2 separate regions of the Homo sapiens genome follow, and region 2 is linked to region 1. Evidence: fine-mapped expression QTL. A gene starts in region 1. The other region holds a variant in brackets. All regions are shown on one strand. Distances are from middle to middle. Region 1 holds the start of CTLA4 (cytotoxic T-lymphocyte associated protein 4). Region 2 has its middle 31 kb from the start of CTLA4.

Evidence for each region. PIP is the estimated chance that this variant, and not a neighbour inherited with it, causes the effect. A credible set is the group of variants that fine-mapping cannot tell apart.
Region 2: its variant is the best candidate, but not a certain one, in a credible set for the expression of CTLA4 in whole blood (INTERVAL, PIP 0.84).

The regions. Positions count from the first base shown.
Region 1 is chr2:203,860,865-203,871,170 of GRCh38, forward strand. It overlaps CTLA4 (cytotoxic T-lymphocyte associated protein 4), which reads left to right and starts at 6,907. Exons shown (of 4, transcript NM_005214.5): 1 at 6,907-7,187; 2 at 9,722-10,069. The coding sequence starts at 7,079.
Region 2 is chr2:203,831,575-203,841,920 of GRCh38, forward strand. No RefSeq gene overlaps it. Among named protein-coding and RNA genes, the nearest start is that of CTLA4, 31 kb to the right of the region's middle. The variant C/T (reference allele first, on the strand shown) is at 6,363.

The DNA of each region.
Region 1 (10,306 bases):
ATTCATTCAAAAATATTTGTTTTCATCTCTATATAATTAAATCTGTGACAGGCAAAGATTACCCTTCAACTGAAGCAGGCTCTGCATTTCATTGTCATCCAAATCAGCAAATACAACTTTGCTTCCCTGACAACCCTGTTCACAATGTAAACTGAAAAGCCAGGAGGAACCTACTCTGTTTCCCCACTAAAGGACTGACAAAGTCCACAGCTCAGAAGCATCCATTTTTTACCTGATTTTATGATTGGCTTATAGTTTCCTAGGGACTGAAAATTAATCTACCACATTTATTTAACTGGGTTCTTGCCCAGCCCATATTTTCACCCTTTAATGGTAATGAAGCTAAAATTTCTTTCCAGTCACTTTGCATATCATTTCCTTTCTCTTTAATTCTCTTTCGAAGTGAGATGATTGATAGATTCTTCTTCAGCAGTCACTTACTTTGGTAGATGATTTTCTTTTTCCTTTGAAGTCGATTTTGAAAGGAGCTCTGTGTGATGAGCTAATTAGCACAAACACACAGAGTATATAACCTTAATTAGGCATGATTATAGGCTCAACGTAATGGGATGTCCTGAAACTGCACACTATGCAAATATTAGACTTTTCATTCTTCCCATTACATCGGAAACCATCAAGCAAAGGATGTTTTGCAGTAGGTACCACAGTCAATGCCAGGTGCAACTCTTTCAATAAAAGGTTGATTTTTTTAAAATTGTTTTGGTATACTAGTTGGGTAAAGGATAATTGGAGGAGGTTTAGGGAAAAAGTTCAAAAATCTGAAAAGCTGAATTCAGTTCAGAATGAGCTATATAAGCTGAGGAATTTTACAATTAAGTAAACAACCCAGTTACTCTTTAAACTCTACCTCTTTTGGAATTCTGAAGATACTTCACCATAGGCACCACTATGAATTATGCAAATCTTGAGAGATCTTTCAAACCCAGTAACCACTAAGAGTACTACAAAACCAATCTGGGGTTTACTCAAGCTATTAGGATATAAGAAGATAGTGAGTATAAATGAAATCACAGTGAATCCCCAAGTCCTAATTTTAGCCGATTATTTTCATTTCCTTTACCACCAACCCCCCACCTTTTTTTCTTTTATAATTGGAGTGGTAAAAATAATTAGCAAATTGACTTTCCCCTTCCTAACCTGAAATGAAAATATCCAAGGATGTGGTACCCTTAGACATTTGAATATTCAGCCACTGAATAATTGAGAGCTTATAATACATAATTCTTAGATTATGTGTAGAGTTGTGAGTTTTTAGACTCAATCAGGTAAAAAATAATAAGCCGTTTGGTTCCAGACACTCATGGAAATACTGACAGGGCAGAAATTCAATATGTGAGTATTAGAATAATTAGTATCTGATTTTAATCTAAAATACCATCTATTCAGTAGAAATGATAATGAAAGAGGGTTTATATAACAGCTGAAATTTAAAATCCATAGCGTTCTCTGTGTTTAATATGTAAACTAATTTTTCCTGAGAACATAGTATATGATAGGCACAGTGTTCAATAACTTATTGGTATAGGCTCATTGAATCATCGCAATAATGATACAAGATAATTCCTGTAAATTACCCATATTTTACAGATGAGGAAGCTGAGGATCAGAGAAGTTAAAAAATGTCATCCAAGATCACATATCCAGAAGCTGCAGAGCCAGGACTTGAACTCATGTCTGTCTGACTCCAGCCATGCTTTTAATCACTCTGCTGGGCTCATTAGTACCTATCAGGCCTATGATTGTGTCCTTAGTGATTAGCACTTTCCCCAGAGCTGGAAATGAGATGCGAGAGAAATAAAAATGCTTGAGATCTAAACTGAAATGCAGAAATTCTCTATTATCTACTAGGTACAAAGGAGGCCTTGACTAGGTGCTTTGTGTGTGTTGAGGTTGTAAGTGCTGTGGAAATAGAATTTGGAGGAAGACAGACAGAATTACACATGATTGACTATAATAAATACAAACCTATATGATACAACATGTTATTGCTGTACATAAGATAACGGGAAAAATCAGTACTGAATGAGAATGAGAAGACGAAGATTTCAATCTAGTTTTTGCCACATACCAAATGTAGCACTAGATCAATGAGGGTCTCAACAGGCAACAGGGGGTTCAAATAAAAGATTCAATGAAAGAACTACTTTGAGAAATATTAAGAAGGGTTAGGGGTGGAGGTTCGTAATGCACCCAGACACTAGCAACAGTGGAAGCTGATAGCACCCCTAGGATGGAAAGATTCTTACTCTTTTTTTAAGATTCTTTAAGATTCTTTAAGAATCTAGGGTAAGATTCTTACTCTTACCCTAGGGGAGGTAAGAGTAAGAATGGGCATCATAGAACAAGGGCCACCAAACAAGAGCTGTACTTGTGGAGAGGTACTGTTACTACCAGACACATGGCCCTGAACCTGGGAGAGGGCAGGGAAGAAAGACCTGGACTTCCACCTTGTGCTTTCTGATGTGCTGGGAACTTCCAATGCTAAGCCCTCAGAAGCCACCCTGACAGGGAACTAATGAGACATTTTCTACAGGGGTCTGTCCCAGGTGGAGCTTGGATCTGAGGAAAGGGGATGGAGAATCACCTTCGGCAAGTCACTTTTCCTCTCTAAATTTCAGTTTGCTCATCCCTCGTTTATTGCCTACCATATTATCAATAATATAAATAGTTGGCCTTATAATTTTTACTTCGAATTTTTTTGAAAAACCTCAAATTTACAAAGAATTTGTAAGAATAGTACCATGAATACACACATATTCTTCACCTAGATTCACCAATTGTTAAAATTCCATCACTGCTGTTTAATTCTTTTTATCTTTCTCTGCTAACACAGACACATATTTTTGCTGAACCTTCTGAGAGTACTTGCTGACATTCTGACACTTAAACCTCGAATACCTAAGTATTATCTATAAACAAGGATGGTTCTCTACATAACCCCAGTACGATGATCACATTCAGGAAATTAAACATTAAGGCAATGCTATTATGAAATATAGGCTATACTCAAATTTCCCCCAGTTTCTCAGTAATCTGCTTTGTATTATTTTTTTCAATCAATAATAACACATTAAATTCTGTCATCATGTCTCTATTTTCTCCTTTAATCTAGAATGGTTTTCCAGGCTTTTCCCTTTTTAATCTTTTGTGATGTTAACATTTTTGAAGAATCTAGGCCAGTTATTTTGCAGAATATGGATTTGTCTGATTATTTCTTCATGCTTAGATTCAGTTAAAACAATTTTGGCAATAACTACACAAAGTTGTTGTGTCCTTCTCAGTGTATTGTATCTGGAGGTACCCTATGTCAGAACACTCCATCACAGTAATCTTCAGTTGGGATCACTTGGTTAAAGCAGTATCTGCTAGATTTATCAATTATCTTTTCCCTATTGTAATTATCAAGTAATCTGTGGGGTGGTATATGTGAATATATCTTTTCTCACCAAGATTCTTTTACCCAGCATTTTTTTTACAACCATTTGAATTTTCTTGCTATGACAGAATTAGTTTCATAAGAGCATAATTAAGGAATCTGGTAAGACGTCTTTGAAAGTTCTAATTACAACCCTCATCTCTTCTTATGTTAAACTGTCTTCATTCATTTACCTACCTATTTAACAAATGTTTAAAGAATGCTCGTTTTGTGGCTTGGCCTGTGACATTTTCATCAGTGGCTTCATAGTTGCCTAAACTAATGTCTCTTCCTGTGCTCCAGAATCCTATTGGCAACTATTTTCCATGGATGCCATAAACTCAACATACTCAGATGAAAGCTGTCATTTCACTTTCTCACCTGCTCTTCCTGTTATTTATTCCAGTAAATTGCACCTCTGTCTTCTCATTGACCCTATAATAAGAAAGGCCTATTTATTGAGTGGCTATCTGTTACAATAGGCCTTTTATACATGTTACATGCATTATCTCATTTAATCTTTTCAATAATCTTGAGAATTAGATGCCATTATCTGGAGGACATTGGGCTTTGAGCCCCAGGTCAACAGTAAGCAAGTCCCCATGCTAGGATACAAATCCAGTTATCTTGGGCTTCAAAATCTTTGCTTTAGCATAGTGATAAAGGTATCACTGGCTTCAAATCCTGGCTCTGCCACTTCCTACGGGTGATTGGGTAAGTCACCTTAACTTTCAATGCCTTGATTTCCTTCTTTATAAAATGGGAAAAATGGTAACTCTTGTCTTGTAGGGTTGTTATGGACTTGAAAGAAACAAAACTTGCTGGGCGCGGTGGCTCACGCCTGTAATCCCAGCGCTTTGGGAGGCCGAGGCGGGTAGATCACCTGAGGTCAGGAATTTGAGACTAGCCTGGTCAACATGGCGAAACCCCATCTCTACTAAAATAATACAAAAAATTAGCTGGGCGTGGTGGTGGGTGCCTGCAATCCCAGCTACTTGGGAGGCTGAGGCAGGAGAATCACTTGAACCCAGGAGGCAGAGGTTGCAGTGAGCCGAGATCGCGCCACTGCACTCCAACCTGGGAAACAAGAGTGAAACTCTGTCTCAAAAAAATAAAAAAGAAAAGAAAGAAAACTTGACATTTGAATAATTTCTGCAGCACCACAGTACTTCTCAAACCATAATTCTGGTGTCATTCATTCTAAACTTCTCCTTCCACTCACTGATTGTGGACTAGTCCCATAGGGACCTCGTCTTCACAGCTGTCATTACCTTAGTTTAGACCAGGGGTTGGCAAACCATGGCCCACAGGCCAAATCCAGACTTCACCTATTTTCGTAAATGAAGTTTTATTGGAATGCACACACACCCATTTGTTTACATATAATATATGGCTTCTTTCATTCTAAAATGACAGAGTTGAGTAGTGGCAACAGAGACCCCACCGTTTGCAAATCATAACATATTTACTATTTTGCCCCCTTCAGAAAGCTTTCCAAATCCTGGTGCCTGGCGTATTCCAATAGTCTTCTTCCCAGTCTTCCTGGTTACATTTCTCCCTGAACCCATCCTCCCCATCCCTAAAATTTCCCCCAAATGTGAACTCAGTCATACCAGTTTGCTCCTTATGTTTCATTGGCCCTTGCTGCTAAGAGCATCCGCTTGCACCTTCTGCTCATCCCCAGACAAGCTTTGTCCTGTGACCATAATGAACTCTTCATGCCGTTTCCAACTTTAGCCCATGTTATTCTTCTTGTCTGAATATCCACCCTTTTCTCTGTTCTCAATAATAAGTTCAGGCTTTTCGTCTTCTGAGAAGCCCTTTCTGACTTCCACAGGCTGAACCACTGGCTTCTGCTCCTCTACATAATACTTCAATTCCAGCATTGATCTCACTCTATCATGATCATGGGTTTAGCTGTCTGTCCCTGCCACTGCTGTGTGTTCCTCTTGAGGGCAGGAACATTTGTTTTTCACTTTTTAAAAAACCTCTGTTGCCCAGTCTGGCATTAGGAAGTGCCCATTAGGTTGTTATTGCTTGTTGGCGCTTGAGCTGGGGCTTGAAGGTTTCTATAATGTGTAGCAGTGTATAGAAAACAGGCAGGTCAGAAAAGGCTTCTGTGCATCACACCAACATGGCACATGTATACATATGTAACAAATCTGCATGTTGTGCACATGTACCCTAAAACTTAAAGTATAATAATAATAAAATTTTAAAAAAAAAAAGAAGAGGCTTCCTGGAGGAGATGACAGCTGAGCTAAGTCCTGGAGGATGAGAAGGAGTATAAAATAAGATAATAGGAGAAAAAAGGCAGTAGGAACAGCATGGGTAAAGGTGATGAGGCCTGAAAGAGGCACGTGGAAGGAAAGACAAATGCAGGAAGGGGGAATGGGAGGGAATGCTGGGGTACAGGCCAAAGAGGGAGGCATTTGGTGAGTATTCTGCAGAGTCTCCTCTGCTGTGCTGAGGTGTGGACAATGGGAAACCATGGACGGACTGGAGTAGGCAAATGTCATATTCCCTGTTACAACTGTCTGTTTGCATGTCAGCCTTCTAGAAGCCCCTTAAGGTATCAACTATGTTTTTGTTTTGTCATCATTCAATCCTAAGTGCACAGAATTCCGGGCATATTACAGGTTCCCCATGAATGTTTCTTTCTTTATTAAAATGTATGAAAACTCTCCAGATTTAAGGAAGGTCCTCAATGTTTCAAATTCTTTTTGTTAGATCATTGGTCCTGTCTACAGCTGTCACAAATTTAAGGACTCTGGTTATATTTAATCTTCACTTTTGAATTTTCTGCTTGAAAAATTTGTATTAGAAAAAAAAGTCTATCCTTTTATGGACGGCTCTAATCTCTTGAATCATTTGGGTTGGCTTTTCTTTGGACCTTCTTCAACTCTGTTTTGTCTCTGTTGAGTTAAGGCTTTTAAGAACACCTGAATTCTTTCCTTCTGCAAAACCAGAGGCAGCTTCTTTTCCGCCTATTTTCAGTTTATTTCTTGTGATTTTAGTTTTTTTCTCTTAACCAAATGCTAAATGGATTTAGGAGAAATAAACTTATTTGTAAAGCTGTCAAGGGACCATTAGAAGGATGGTGCTTCACAGATAGAATACAGTTTTTATTAATGATGCCTAGACAAATCCTGCCATTAGCCCAAGGGCTCAGAAAGTTAGCAGCCTAGTAGTTTTGGAGTTGTCAATGAAATGAATTGGACTGGATGGTTAAGGATGCCCAGAAGATTGAATAAAATTGGGATTTAGGAGGACCCTTGTACTCCAGGAAATTCTCCAAGTCTCCACTTAGTTATCCAGATCCTCAAAGTGAACATGAAGCTTCAGTTTCAAATTGAATACATTTTCCATCCATGGATTGGCTTGTTTTGTTCAGTTGAGTGCTTGAGGTTGTCTTTTCGACGTAACAGCTAAACCCACGGCTTCCTTTCTCGTAAAACCAAAACAAAAAGGCTTTCTATTCAAGTGCCTTCTGTGTGTGCACATGTGTAATACATATCTGGGATCAAAGCTATCTATATAAAGTCCTTGATTCTGTGTGGGTTCAAACACATTTCAAAGCTTCAGGATCCTGAAAGGTTTTGCTCTACTTCCTGAAGACCTGAACACCGCTCCCATAAAGCCATGGCTTGCCTTGGATTTCAGCGGCACAAGGCTCAGCTGAACCTGGCTACCAGGACCTGGCCCTGCACTCTCCTGTTTTTTCTTCTCTTCATCCCTGTCTTCTGCAAAGGTGAGTGAGACTTTTGGAGCATGAAGATGGAGGAGGTGTTTCTCCTACCTGGGTTTCATTTGTTTCAGCAGTCAAAGGCAGTGATTTATAGCAAAGCCAGAAGTTAAAGGTAAAACTCCAATCTGGCTTGGCTGGCTCTGTATTCCAGGGCCAGCAGGGAGCAGTTGGGCGGCAGCAAATAAGGCAAAGAGATAGCTCAGAACAGAGCGCCAGGTATTTAGTAGGGGCTTCATGAATGCATGTGAGTTGGTTTAGTAGAGAGACACAGGCAATTTCAGACCCTTCTATGAGACTGGAAGTGATTTAAGAGGGAAAGGATAGCCATAGTCCTGAATACATTTGAGCTGGGTTTCAGGATGAGCTCACAAGTTCCTTTAAAAAAAATTGACTTAAGCAAATCCTGGGAAGAGTTTTTTTGCTATACAATTCAAGGTTTTAAGGTCCTCGGATTCATATACTTTATAAATGAATTAGCCAGCTTGTTTAAAATGTAGGGAAATTGTGGGAAGAATGCCTTCTTTACTTAATTCAAGGTTTTAAGGTTCTCTTAATCAATTCTACTAGCTAATTAGCCAATTATTTAAAAATAAAAGTTTGAAATTGCCAAAAAAAAAAGACAAGGAAAAGGAAAGAAAGAAAGCCACCAGTCTGTTTGGCATACAATACTTAATTGTTGCCTGACCTACGTGTGGGTTTCAGATGCAGATCCTCAGTTTTCAGCTCTTCAGAGACTGACACCAGGTTTGTTACACGGCTTAAAATGATGAGTATATCCATTGAATCTCAACCTTATCTCTCTCTAGACCTTCTTGGTTAAGAAACCATGTAGTTTGTATGAAGTAGGTACTCAAAAGATATTTGATGATTTAATTTTTACTGGAGAAGAAATATTCATATATGTTTTCTTATTTTTACATGTTTTAAATATGTAAAGATTAAATAAACACTCTTAGAAGTATTTAAATTTCCTAAAGTAAATTTATCTCAACCAGTAACAGGACCCTCCCAATACTGGAAAGTTGAGTGTGACCGCATTTAGTGGTGATGAGTGTGAGCTTGCTTGGGGAGAGGGCAGGACATTTAGGATTTCTTAAGCTTAGAGTCAATACAATAAAGATTATTGAGTGCTCACTTGGGTGGGCTATAATCACTGCTCACAGGAGTTCATGAACCACAAGTAAAAGAGTGAGGAGATATGATTAGCTCACAAATAACTTTAATACAGAGCAGAAAGTAATGAACTACTGCAATGGAGTTATCACAGTGCTAAGGATGCTCAGAGGGCATCTCTGATAGGCAGAGGTGAGGGTTAGGGAAGGAAGCTGTAGTCTAGCTAGCTAGAGCTGCTGGAATAGACATGACAATGGCTGCTGCCAAACTGTTTTCTCTTCTGAGGACAGATGTCCCGTGCAAGTGGCTTGGTGGAAGGGACTAGTGTCTCTAATATAGGGTGATTTATAAGCAGGAAAGTGTGTCCTAGAAATTCAGACCAGAGTGATAGATTGGAATTGGATCATGGGGGACTCATTGAATGTTATTTATTGTATTTGTTTTTGCGATCAGTGTTAGTAAAGTGTCAAAGGGATTGAGCAGATGAGTGACATCATGCAACACAAGTTTTGAGTTTCACTTGTCAGACTGACTGGAGAGGGGCCTGGTTAGTTACAGGAAGGTAATTTGGCATGCAGCCACTATTTTTGAGTTGATGCAAGCCTCTCTGTATGGAGAGCTGGTCTCCTTTATCCTGTGGGAAAAGAGAACAAAGGAGCATGGGAGTGTTCAAGGGAAGGAGAAATAAAGGGCAGAGAGGCAGCGGTGGTGTCAGGGGAAGCCCACAGGAGTTAACAGCAGGGTTGCCTCAACCTAGAGAGGAAGCGACCTGGTGCCCTCGGCTCTGTGGCTTCCTTCATCTAACAACATCTTCCACTCTACAACAATGCCAGGGAAGGCGGAGGCTGGTACAGTGCATCAAGACACAGCTACTCCTGGGTGACAGAGGTTCAGGGCCAGCTCACTAAGTAGGCAGAAGTTTTTGACATATACTTTGAGAGATAAAGCAAGATTCTGTACCTCAACCTTCAGAATTTCCCCTACCACTCATTATAGTTCCGGAGCTATATAGCTCCTATCATTCTATCATAACCTTAGAATACCAGAGAACATATCATCTCATCTAATTATCTCTTACTATATGTGAAAAAAATGAAGGACATGGGGGAAGTGTGACTTGCCCCAAATCACATATTTCATGGTAGAGCCAGGTCTTCTGTTTGTCATATCAGTGTTCTTCCTGCCACAACCATCTTGAAGAATCTATTTCTCAGTAAGAAAATATCTTTATGGAGAGTAGCTGGAAAACAGTTGAGAGATGGAGGGGAGGCTGGGGGTGTGGAGAGGGGAAGGGGTAAGTGATAGATTCGTTGAAGGGGGGAGAAAAGGCCGTGGGGATGAAGCTAGAAGGCAGAAGGGCTTGCCTGGGCTTGGCCATGAAGGAGCATGAGTTCACTGAGTTCCCTTTGGCTTTTCCATGCTAGCAATGCACGTGGCCCAGCCTGCTGTGGTACTGGCCAGCAGCCGAGGCATCGCCAGCTTTGTGTGTGAGTATGCATCTCCAGGCAAAGCCACTGAGGTCCGGGTGACAGTGCTTCGGCAGGCTGACAGCCAGGTGACTGAAGTCTGTGCGGCAACCTACATGATGGGGAATGAGTTGACCTTCCTAGATGATTCCATCTGCACGGGCACCTCCAGTGGAAATCAAGTGAACCTCACTATCCAAGGACTGAGGGCCATGGACACGGGACTCTACATCTGCAAGGTGGAGCTCATGTACCCACCGCCATACTACCTGGGCATAGGCAACGGAACCCAGATTTATGTAATTGGTGAGCAAAGCCATTTCACTGAGTTGACACCTGTTGCATTGCAGTCTTCTATGCACAAAAACAGTTTTGTTCCTTAATTTCAGGAGGTTTACTTTTAGGACTGTGGACATTCTCTTTAAGAGTTCTGTACCACATGGTAGCCTTGCTTATTGTGGGTGGCAACCTTAATAGCATTCTGACTGTAAAATAAAATGATTTGGGGAAGTTGGGGCTCTCGCTCTGGAGTGCTAACCATCA
Region 2 (10,346 bases), 29 kb before region 1:
TAAGAATCAGATCAATTCTTTTCTCCAATTTTTCTCTTGTCCACTTTCTTTTTTCCATGAAGTCTCCACACTGTTGATAATTATAATGATAAAATTACAATAAAAGCAAACATTTATTGAGTGCTTTCTGTATAGGCATTATTACTCTCTGTTTCTGATGTGGACCTTTAAGGATGAAAATATATTCTAGAAGTTGGTATATTAAGTTAAAATGCCAAGATGGCATTTCTATTTTAATTTTTTTTGAGATGGAGTCTCGCTCCCTCTCTCATTCTGGAGTGCAGTGGTGCGATCTCGGCTCACTGCAAGCTCCGCCTCCCAGGTTCACGCCATTGTCCTGCCTCGGCCTCCCGAATAGCTGGGACTACAGGCGCCCGCCACCACGCCCAGATAATTTTTTGTATTTTTAGTAGAGACGGGGTTTCACCGTGTTAGCCAGGATGGTCTCGATCTCCTGGCCTCGTGATCCACCTGCCTCCGCCTCCCAATGTGCTGGGATTACAGGCGTGAGCCACGACACCCAGCCCTAGATGGCATTTTAAGAGGATATTATGATAGCCTTAAATACTAAGGTAAAGTGCCTATATTTAAAAATCTTCAATCATTTCCCTTTGCCTGAAAAATTAAAAACATGGACAGGGTGGTAGTGATGGTGTGGTATGATCGTAAGTTTGTATTTTAGATATATGTAGAAACATATGAAAGGTGGATTGAAACAAGGAGAGGATAAAGACATGAGTTAGGAGTTAGGATTGCAAGATAAAATATGGGAAGCCAAGTTAAATTGAATTTCAGATAAACAAGAATTTTTTTTAGTACAAATATGTTCCATGCAATATTTGGAAAATATTTGGAACATACTTATACTAGAAAAGTATTTGTAGTTTATCTGAATAAATTCATATTTAATTGAATTTCTTGTATTTTTATTTGCTAAAACCGGCAACTCTATTTAGGAGGTTACTACAGTAGTCCAAGTAAGGGGAAACAAAGAACTAAAAAGGGTGGTGGAAGAGGAAATTGATAGGAGAGTACGGATGTGAAAGAATTGAGAAGGTAAAATTGATAGGACTTGGCAACTGATAAGAGAAAATGATGTGGCTTTAGATACCATAATGTGGAAAGAGGAGCCAGGATCTAATAGGCTAATTTTCTAATAGAAAATTTATATACTTCAAGGGAAAACAATGGGTGAACTGAACATGGAGTAGTGGTTCTGTGAATTGAGAGCCTTGATTAGTGAAATGAACATTGAAAGACATTATTGCAAGTTTAAATTAAACTAAAAATTTAATAAAAGTTACCTTCTTTAAAAATAGTTAACATTTTTGTAGATGTATTGAGAAGTTTAAATATGTTATTAATAGCATTGAGGATATCAGTCTGCCTTTTCATAACCCAGATAAATGAAAGCTCATAACTTTTATTCTTCTAAAACATTTAAAGTTGTGTCCTAAAATCAGACAATAGCTGTTTCATTTTTGCTTAGAAAATAGTATATTAAAATGAATCTTTTATCAAGCTGGGCAGAATAACTTTTGCCTCATATCAACCAGTAGGATTAAAGGGTGTTTTATAAAATTCTGCATTAAAATTATTCGATGTTACCCCCATGCTATTTTAGCACAATAAAATAGCATGGGAGTATTTTACTGTATTTTATATGTACAGGGTACATATACTGTGTATAGTATTTTATTGTGCTAAAATAGCATGGGAGTATTTTACTGTATTTTATATGTACAGGGTACATATACTGTATATAGTATTTTATTGTGCTAAAATAGCATGGGAGTATTTTACTGTGCTAAAATACATTTAGCATGGGCTGTTATATCTTATGACTTTGATCTCTAGATATACCTATTTCTAAACATATATGGGTATACATTTCAAGATGGTAGAATAAATTAGAAATTGTAAAGATGTCTGTTGAGACCCTTTAAACTTTTATAAAGCCTATTCTAATTTATTCAATAAATATTTATTAGATATCTATTATGGACCCAGTTTTTTACCAATAGCTTGAAAGAAAGTCCCTTTCCTCATAATCTTAAAGAACAAATCAATTATGGAGTAATCAAGTTGGGATGGAAACTTCAGATAAAAAATGATATTTTCCCATTTTACCTGCCACCTTTATCCCCGTTTGTTTCAGAGCTGCAGTAGCGACCTGTATCTGCTAGGGTCCAGGCAGAAGACAGAAACCACATCAACTATTTAAACAGAGAGAATTTTACATAAAGAGTTGTTGGCTGGGAGTGGTGGCTCATGCCTGTAATCCCAGCACTTTGGGAGGCCGAGGCAGGCGGCTCACGAGGTTAGGAAATCGAGACCATCCTGGCCAACCTGGTGAAATCCCCTCTCTACTAAAAATACAAAAATTAGCTGGATGTGGTGGTGTGCACCTGTAATCTCAGCTACTTGGGAGGCTGAGACACGAGAATCGCTTGAACCCAGGAGGCAGAGGTTGCAGTGAGCCGAGATCGTGCCACTGCACTCCAGCCTGGCGACAGAGCAAGACTCCGTCAAAAAAAAAAAAAAAAAAAAAGCTGTTAACCAGGCATAATGCAGTTAACTAGGTAATTGAGAAACAAAAGGAGAATGCTAATGTATCTCAGAGGAAGCAGCTGCAGCTACTATTCCTAGGGTTGGAGGAACAAGAGGAAAAGGTTAGAATTACTAAAACTTAGAAATTTGCAGGAGTCTTATAACCTGGGACCCAGACCTCCGAGGAGGGTCTCCAGTTGGCTAGTGTTGATGTCTCTGGGGAGTAGGATAAGGGGCAGTGAAGCTGGTTCTGCAAGTCTTGAAAAAATTGCAAAGTGGATTCAGCTGCTGCTAATGGACACACCTGCTGCTGCTGCTGGGGTGAAGAAGTGAGCCTGGGGTGACATCCACACAAACATGGAGCAAGTCCCTGCTTCCTTCTTCAGCCTTGCAGTTCTCCCTCTAACACCTTCTACTGACAGAGTCTAACACAGATCCAGAATACTATGCTGCCATAAAAAGGAATGAGATCATGTCCTTTGCAGGGACATCGATGGAGCTGGAACCCGTTATCCTCAGCAAATAACACAGAAACAGAAAACTAAACACCGTATGTTCTCACTTATAACTGGGAGCTGAATAAGGAGAACACATGGACACAGGGGGCATGGGAACAATACACACTGGGGCCTGTTGTGTGGTGGAGGCAGGAGGGAGAGCATCAAGAAGAATAGCTAATGAATGTTGGTCTTAATACCTAGGTGATGGGTTAACCTGTGCAGCAAACCACCATGGCACACATTTACCAATGTAACAAACCTGTACCTCTTGCACTTGTACCCCAGAACTTAAAAGTTGAAGGAAAAAAAAAAAGCAGAAATGTAGTTTGCAGACTCCCAGGCTCAGCATCACAAATCATAGTAGTGTCTATGTGAGCTGAGGGACCATAACTTGCTAATTGGTACACCTCCTAAATACTTCTTCTGGATTACCTCTTGCCTTCTCAAGTAGGAGCTCTGCCCTGAACCAGAGTGATCTTCCCAAATCCCTTCAAAATTTCTCATGGCTCTCAGAATAAGGGCAGAGATCCTTAACATGACCCACGGGCCTGTGTGATTTGACCCCTGAACATTTCCATCCTCATCCTGGACCTCAGTCTCCCTCCGTAGCCTGGCTGGCCTCCAGTCCTTGAGGATGTCACGTTCTCTTCTCCTTCAGGACTTCCATACATACTACTCCCTGTGCCTGAAATGTTCTTCCCCTCCTCTTTGCCTAGTTTAGTTCCATTTGTTGTTGAGATTTTAGCTCAAGAACAACGACTTCTTCAGGATGGCCTCCTTCATGCCTTAGATGGGGCGATGCCTCTCTATTAAATGTTTCCATGGCTTTTGCGCACTCTTCATGGTTTGTAATTGGATTGTTGTATTTGATATTTGTTTCCCCACTATTATGAGATACATGAGTGTAGGAATAATGTCTGTTTTGTTCACCACTGTTTTCTCAGTGCCTACAAGGTGTGTGACATGTAGTAGGTACTCAACAAATATTTATCACGTGACCGAAGAGCCAAACCAAATTATTTTGTAAGAGGAAGCGTTTATTACCATAATTTAGGATGCTGCTGTTGGTTGTAAGTACTGTCATTTTATTATGAAGAAAAGCAGTTGGTAAGGAGCACTCTGAAAACATGTCAGAGCCAAGACAGTGAGAGCAGCTGTATGCATTTATTTATTTAAACCTTTCTCAAAGTGTTCGTTGCTCCGGCTTCAATACTAACACAGATAGGGGTATCGTAGCAGAGTCCTGATTGTGCGCCACTCAGCCCGGGTCAGTCCGCTTTTACATGAAGTGAAATAAAATCTGTACGTCCTATATTTTCAAGGCCTCAGCAGCAGATCTGCCCATGAGTGCAGAAAACAGTGCCCCATGAGAACCAGAGCAAGTGGGCAGGCACAGCACCATCCAAGTTCATTCTTAGAAAAGAAGTGTTTCTTCAGAGGAAGCGTAGTCTGCCCACCCTACAGACAACCTTTTACATTCTCAGAAGAGCAGTTCGCTTCCTGCTGTGACATTGTCTCAGGCATCTGTATTTATGATTAGGGTCTCTGCTCTACGAATAAAAGGCCTGCTCCAGTGATTTTCCGAGAACGACAGATTGGTCTGTACCAAAGGTTTGTTTGAGTCTCTGCCTCACAAGCCAGAAAAGTGCTTACAGTCTCGAAACGATGGTTCCAGTTTTTACCCTTCCCATCAATGCTTCAAAGATGTGAAGACCAAGTTACGGGCAGGGCTTATGCTTAAAGTACCATGAGTAACATCCCCCCAGCAGTGTCTGCAAGAAGAAAGTTTCTTACACATGTGTTTATCCATTCAGTCATCCACCCATTTAGCTCTCATTTACGAGTGTTTACTATGTATGAAGTGTTGTTCCCGGCACTGGAGCTATTGAGTTGGCAGAGAAAGACAGATCACAGTTAACAAGATAATTTCAGGCAATGATAAGCGGCATGATGAAAATAGGGAGTGACTTGTGGCGCTACCGTTCGGATGCGTGATCATTGATGTGATTGATAAGATGACATTTAAGCAGAAATCTGAATGGCCAGAAGGGACCCGTCTTACTAAGATACGGGGAAAGAACATTTCAGACAGAGGGGACAAATTGTGCCAAAGCTCTGGAGTAGGGATGAATTTGGACAAGTGTGGCTGGGGTATAGGAAGCAAGGGATCTGGGAAGAGGAACCCAGTTCTGAGACAATGCATAGAAGAGTGACCTACCTCTTTCATGCTCTGTACCATGTTGCCTTTTCTGTATGTAGGGGCGAATTGTATTTTGTTATGTCCATGCACAATTTCTGCTTAGGTTCAGTTGGAGCATTCAGTTGCTCTACTACGATACACCAACAGTTAAACTTCAAATATAGATTGGGAAAATGATACAGTGATGAGCTTATCCTTGGATATTTTATAAAGCAACTGCTACATTATATTCTTAGGGATGTTGGAAAATCAAATAAAATGTGGGGTCATATGTTTTGTTAGATAACACCCTCCCTAACTTAGACTGAGTTGCCTCACGTGTAAATGTTGTAAAAACCTAAATAGCAATGAGATATCACTACATACCAATTATGGTGGCTAAGATAAAATATACTGATATCAAGTGCTGGTGAAGAGTCAAAACAACCAGAGCTCTTAGACATTGCTGGTGGGAAAGCAAAAATGGTATAGCCACTTTGATGGTTTCTTATGAAGCTAGACATACACTTACCATAAGACCCAGCAATCCCACTTCTGCACATTTACCCTAGAGAAATGAAAACTTATGTTCACACAAAACTTGTACGTAAATATTTGTAAAAGCTCTATTCATAATCACCAAAACCAGAAGCAACTTAAATGCCCTTCAACAGCTGAATGGGTAAACTATGAGACATCCATCCAATGGAATACTACTCATCAGCAAAAAGGAAGAAACTACTGATGCGCATAACTTGGATGAATCTCAGAAGCATTATGCTGAGTGAAAGAAGCCCATATGAAAAGGCCGCATAGCATATGATACCATTTATTTGGCATTCTCCAAAAGACAAAACTATAGTGATGGGGAAAGACATGGGGACAGTGGCTAGGGCTGGGAGCAAGTGTGACTAAAAAAGAATAGTATGAGAGAGGTTTCGGGAATGATGGAATTGTTCAGTATTCTGATAGTGATTGTTATACTAATCCATACATGTGTTAAATTTCATGGAACTGTAAACCCATTTTTAAAAGTCAATTTTGCTGTGTGTTAATTTAAAAATTAAAGCTAAAACCTAACAACAATCAAGAAATATATTGGTGTGTCTGAAGATAAAAAGGAACTGTTTAAA[C/T]TGATAGTAAAGAAAAGCCTTAAATTTTTGGTTGTGATTTCTGCATGTAGTAAGTTGAATTTTTCCAAACTGAGGTTATCGCATTGAATATGAATTCAGAAAGTACTAATTACTCTGTCACCAAGAAATTCTAATCCATTAGTAGAATATAATCAGATTCACATAAATTAAAAAATAAAATATAGTCAAACTTCTTTGAGCAGTCCAATTGACTGACTGCCACATGCTATGAAATGAAGATAGTGCTGCAAGGAATGAAAAACAAGATATTGTCTTGGGCTCCTAAGGAGCATACAATCTCATAGGGAGGATAAGAGAAGGAGAAAAACAATAATAATACCAAACAATTGAGAAAAGTGATTACACAAACATGCTAAGAGAAGCTCACAGTATCTCTGCATGTGGAAAGGAAGGAGAGAAGTCATATCAGATTGAGGATCACAAGTCCAACTGCACTCTTGACTTACTGATCTGATCTTTTGCAGTCTGCTTTTGAGAGAAAGAGATAAACGAGGAGAAAACAAGTTAATTTCAGAAATTTTATTAAAAAGTAAAACAGGATTATTCATACATTGTATTGGAGTCCTTATGGAGGGAGTCCTTTTCCAGGGAAGATCGTTTTTCATGGAATACCTGATAGGCTTAAGCACACTTTGGGAAACGTTGTGCAGGGCTCAGAGAACTCTCAAAAGTGGTTTTCTGAAGGTTTGAATCCTGGTCTAGTGTCAGGAGATGGGGAGGAAGTTTGGGCTAATGCTGAGTATTGGTCCTTGTTAGAGTGAGGCTTCAGGAGAGGGAAAGGGCCGGTGGATTGCCAGCCCATAGACAGGAGAGAGGGTCCCAGAAAAGCCCATGCTCTTTGCCAACTTCCACTTCTGTTTTGGTACATGGGCTGTAGGTTACTAATCCTCTGCTAGATTTCTACAACTCGTTTCATTGTTGGATAGCTCCAGTTATTAATACAAAGAGCATCTTTCTAAATTGCACTCTGCCTCCCCTGTGGCTTCCACCCTGTGGGTCTCATTACAACCCCAGGGTCCTCACAGATGTCTGTTTCTTCCTATGTGACCATGAGTGAATAACCTAATTTCTTGAGCCTACTTCTTCTTCCTCTGTAAAACCAGGGCAATAATAACTACTCCTTAAGAATGTTGTGAGTATTGGCTGGGCACGGTGGCTCATGCCTGTAATCCCAGCACTTTGGGAGGTTGAGGTGGGTGGATCACCTGAGGTCAGGAGTTCGAGACCAGCTTGGCCAATATGGTGAAACCACATCTCCGCTAAAAATACAAAATTAGCCAGGTGTGGTTGCAGGCGCCTGTAGTCCTAGCTACTCAGGAGGCTGAGGTGGGAGAATCACTTGAACCCAGGAGGCAGAGATTGCAGTAAGCCAAGAGATTGCGCCATTGCACTCTAGCCTGGGTGACAAGAGCGAAACTCTGTCTCAAAAAAAAAAATGTTGTATTAATGAGATAATGGACATTAGTCATCTGGCATAGTGGCTGATACAGTAGACATTCAATACATTTGTATTTCCTCTCCCTCTCTAAATAACAGCCTTTCAAATAATAGTTATTAGGTATCCCTGTTTTATCGCTCTAAGCAAAGCTTTCCCTGTGCATGCATGCATTCATTCCATTATTCATTCATCCATCTATTGATTCTACAGTTACTTATTGAGCCTCTCCTGTGTGAAAGGCCCTGTGCTGGGCACTGAGGATACCGTGGGGATCAGAGCAGACAGTGCTCCTAATTCTAATCTCGTGGAGTCTGAAATCAAGTAAATAGGTGATAATAGTTCAGTGCTGTAAGTACCCTGGGAAAAGAGGGAAAGAGAGAACTCTTCCAGGTTGGAGGGCATATTAGTTTCTTGAGGCTGTTGTAACCAATTACTACAAACTTGGTGGCTTAAAGCAACAAAAGTTTATTCTCTCAAGGTCCTGGAGGCTAGAAATCTGGCAGGACCACACTCCATTTGGGGACTCTAGGGGAGAATCAGTGCCTTGTTTCTTCCAGCTTCTGGTGGCTCCCCAGCATTTCTGGGTTTGTGGCTGCATCATTCCAGTCTCTGCCTCTGACTTCACATCACCTTCTGCCTTGTATGTTTCTATATGATCTTCAATTTCCTCTTTTTTATAAGGACATTTATGATGGCATCTACGATCCACCCAAATAATCCAGGGTAATCTTCTCATCTCAAGATCCTTAACTCAGTTACAACTGCAAAGACACTTTCTCCAAGTAAGGTAACATTTTCAAGTTCCAGGGATTAGGACATATCTCTGGGTAGCCATTATTCAACCTACTACCACTACAAGGGATAAGGATGAAAGAAGGCTTCCTGGGGGAACAGTGTATAAAATAGGACCTAAAAAATTAGGCAGAATTTTGTCAGGAGGAGAAGCAGCAAGAGTGATAGAGAATATTCCAAGCAGAGAAATCAGTGTGTGGCAAAGGCCCTGAGTTGAGGGAGTGTGGTGAATCAGAGAATCTGCACGGAGTGTGGTTATGGCTGGAGCACATAGTAGGTGTGTGTGTTGATGCATGAGGGGAGGGCTGTGGGAGGAGAGACAGGAGGTGAGTCTGGAGAGAGAAAAGCACTGGCTAGATCTTGAGGGACTTTGATAGCTATGCTAAAGTGTTTGGATTCTATGCCAGATGTCATGGAGAGTCATGGAAGGGTTTTAAGAAGACATCTTATGTGCTCAGATTTGCACCAGCCTCTGGAGAAGAGGTGAGGGGACTCATAGGAGGCAAAGACATCAATCAGAGGGCTGCTGCGGCCATTCTGGGGAGAGATGATGGCAGCCAGAGCTGGCTGATTTCTGCTTCTGCTAGAACATGATTCCAGCTCCATTGCGTTCCTTGTTACAGGGATCAGACCTCATTTCCCACTGCTATTACGGTTCCTACCCATGCTTGTCAATTAATGCGGTGATTGATTGGTCACAGGATTTATTATTTGGCTTCCAATAAGCCTTGGGTTTCCAAGTCTGACTGTGGAAAAGGAGCTTACTCAACTGAAACACTTTGTAAGTGACACTTCTCCATCCCCCTTCCTGTGGCAGCCCTTCCCAGCACAAAGCCACAGACCAGGGTGAGAGGCAGTGGTGGAGGGGCAGGAAGGTGGGAGGACAAATCAGTGAGACAAATGATAAAGGAGGTTCCCAGTATGCTTTCTGATCTTTCTGGACTTTTTTAATGGGCTAATTGAAGGAAAGGTTTAATTAACCGAACACACACATATCCAAAGCCTCTGTAAAATTGGAATTAGGTAGAATTTTATCAGCGGACAAAATTTTCTCACAACCTGGGAGGTGTCCCTCTGTCACTGATTTGTCTCAAATGGTTGCTTGTTTTCAGAAGCAGCAGATGTGATAAGACCTGCATGTTTCTGACTGACTGTATATGTTGGCCTGTTCTATGGTTAAGAATCCGTAAGCATCAAGTCCTTTATTTTGCATCTCTGGGGTCTGGAAGCAGATTTTTATATATTTCTCTCAAAATCGGGTCAGGGCTTCCAGAGGGTGGAGGGTTGCAAATAATGAAAAGGAGTGGAAATATGCCTATAGTATTCTGTAGCTTGACCAAATGGTGATTCTCACAGTGTGGTCTTCCCACCCTCTTGTGGATGAATCACTTAGGATCTTCTAAAAAATACAGTTTCCCATGATCCCCTTTAGTCAAATGAATTCAGATTTCCAGGGATGGAGCTCAGGAGTCTGAATTTTTAACAAGTTCTTCAGGAAACCAAAACGCTCATGAAAGCGTGAGATTAACTATTAGAGCTCACGGAAAAGGAGGGACAAATAAATGAAATATAAAAAGGAGGAAATGCCTCCAACCAGTGGGCTCAGACAGAAAAGGAATCAGTCATGTAAATTATGGTACCTCCATGTCATAAAACACAGCAATCAAATACGGTAGATGGAAATATACTGACATGGAGATAATTCGACATGGAACTATGTCTGTCATATACTG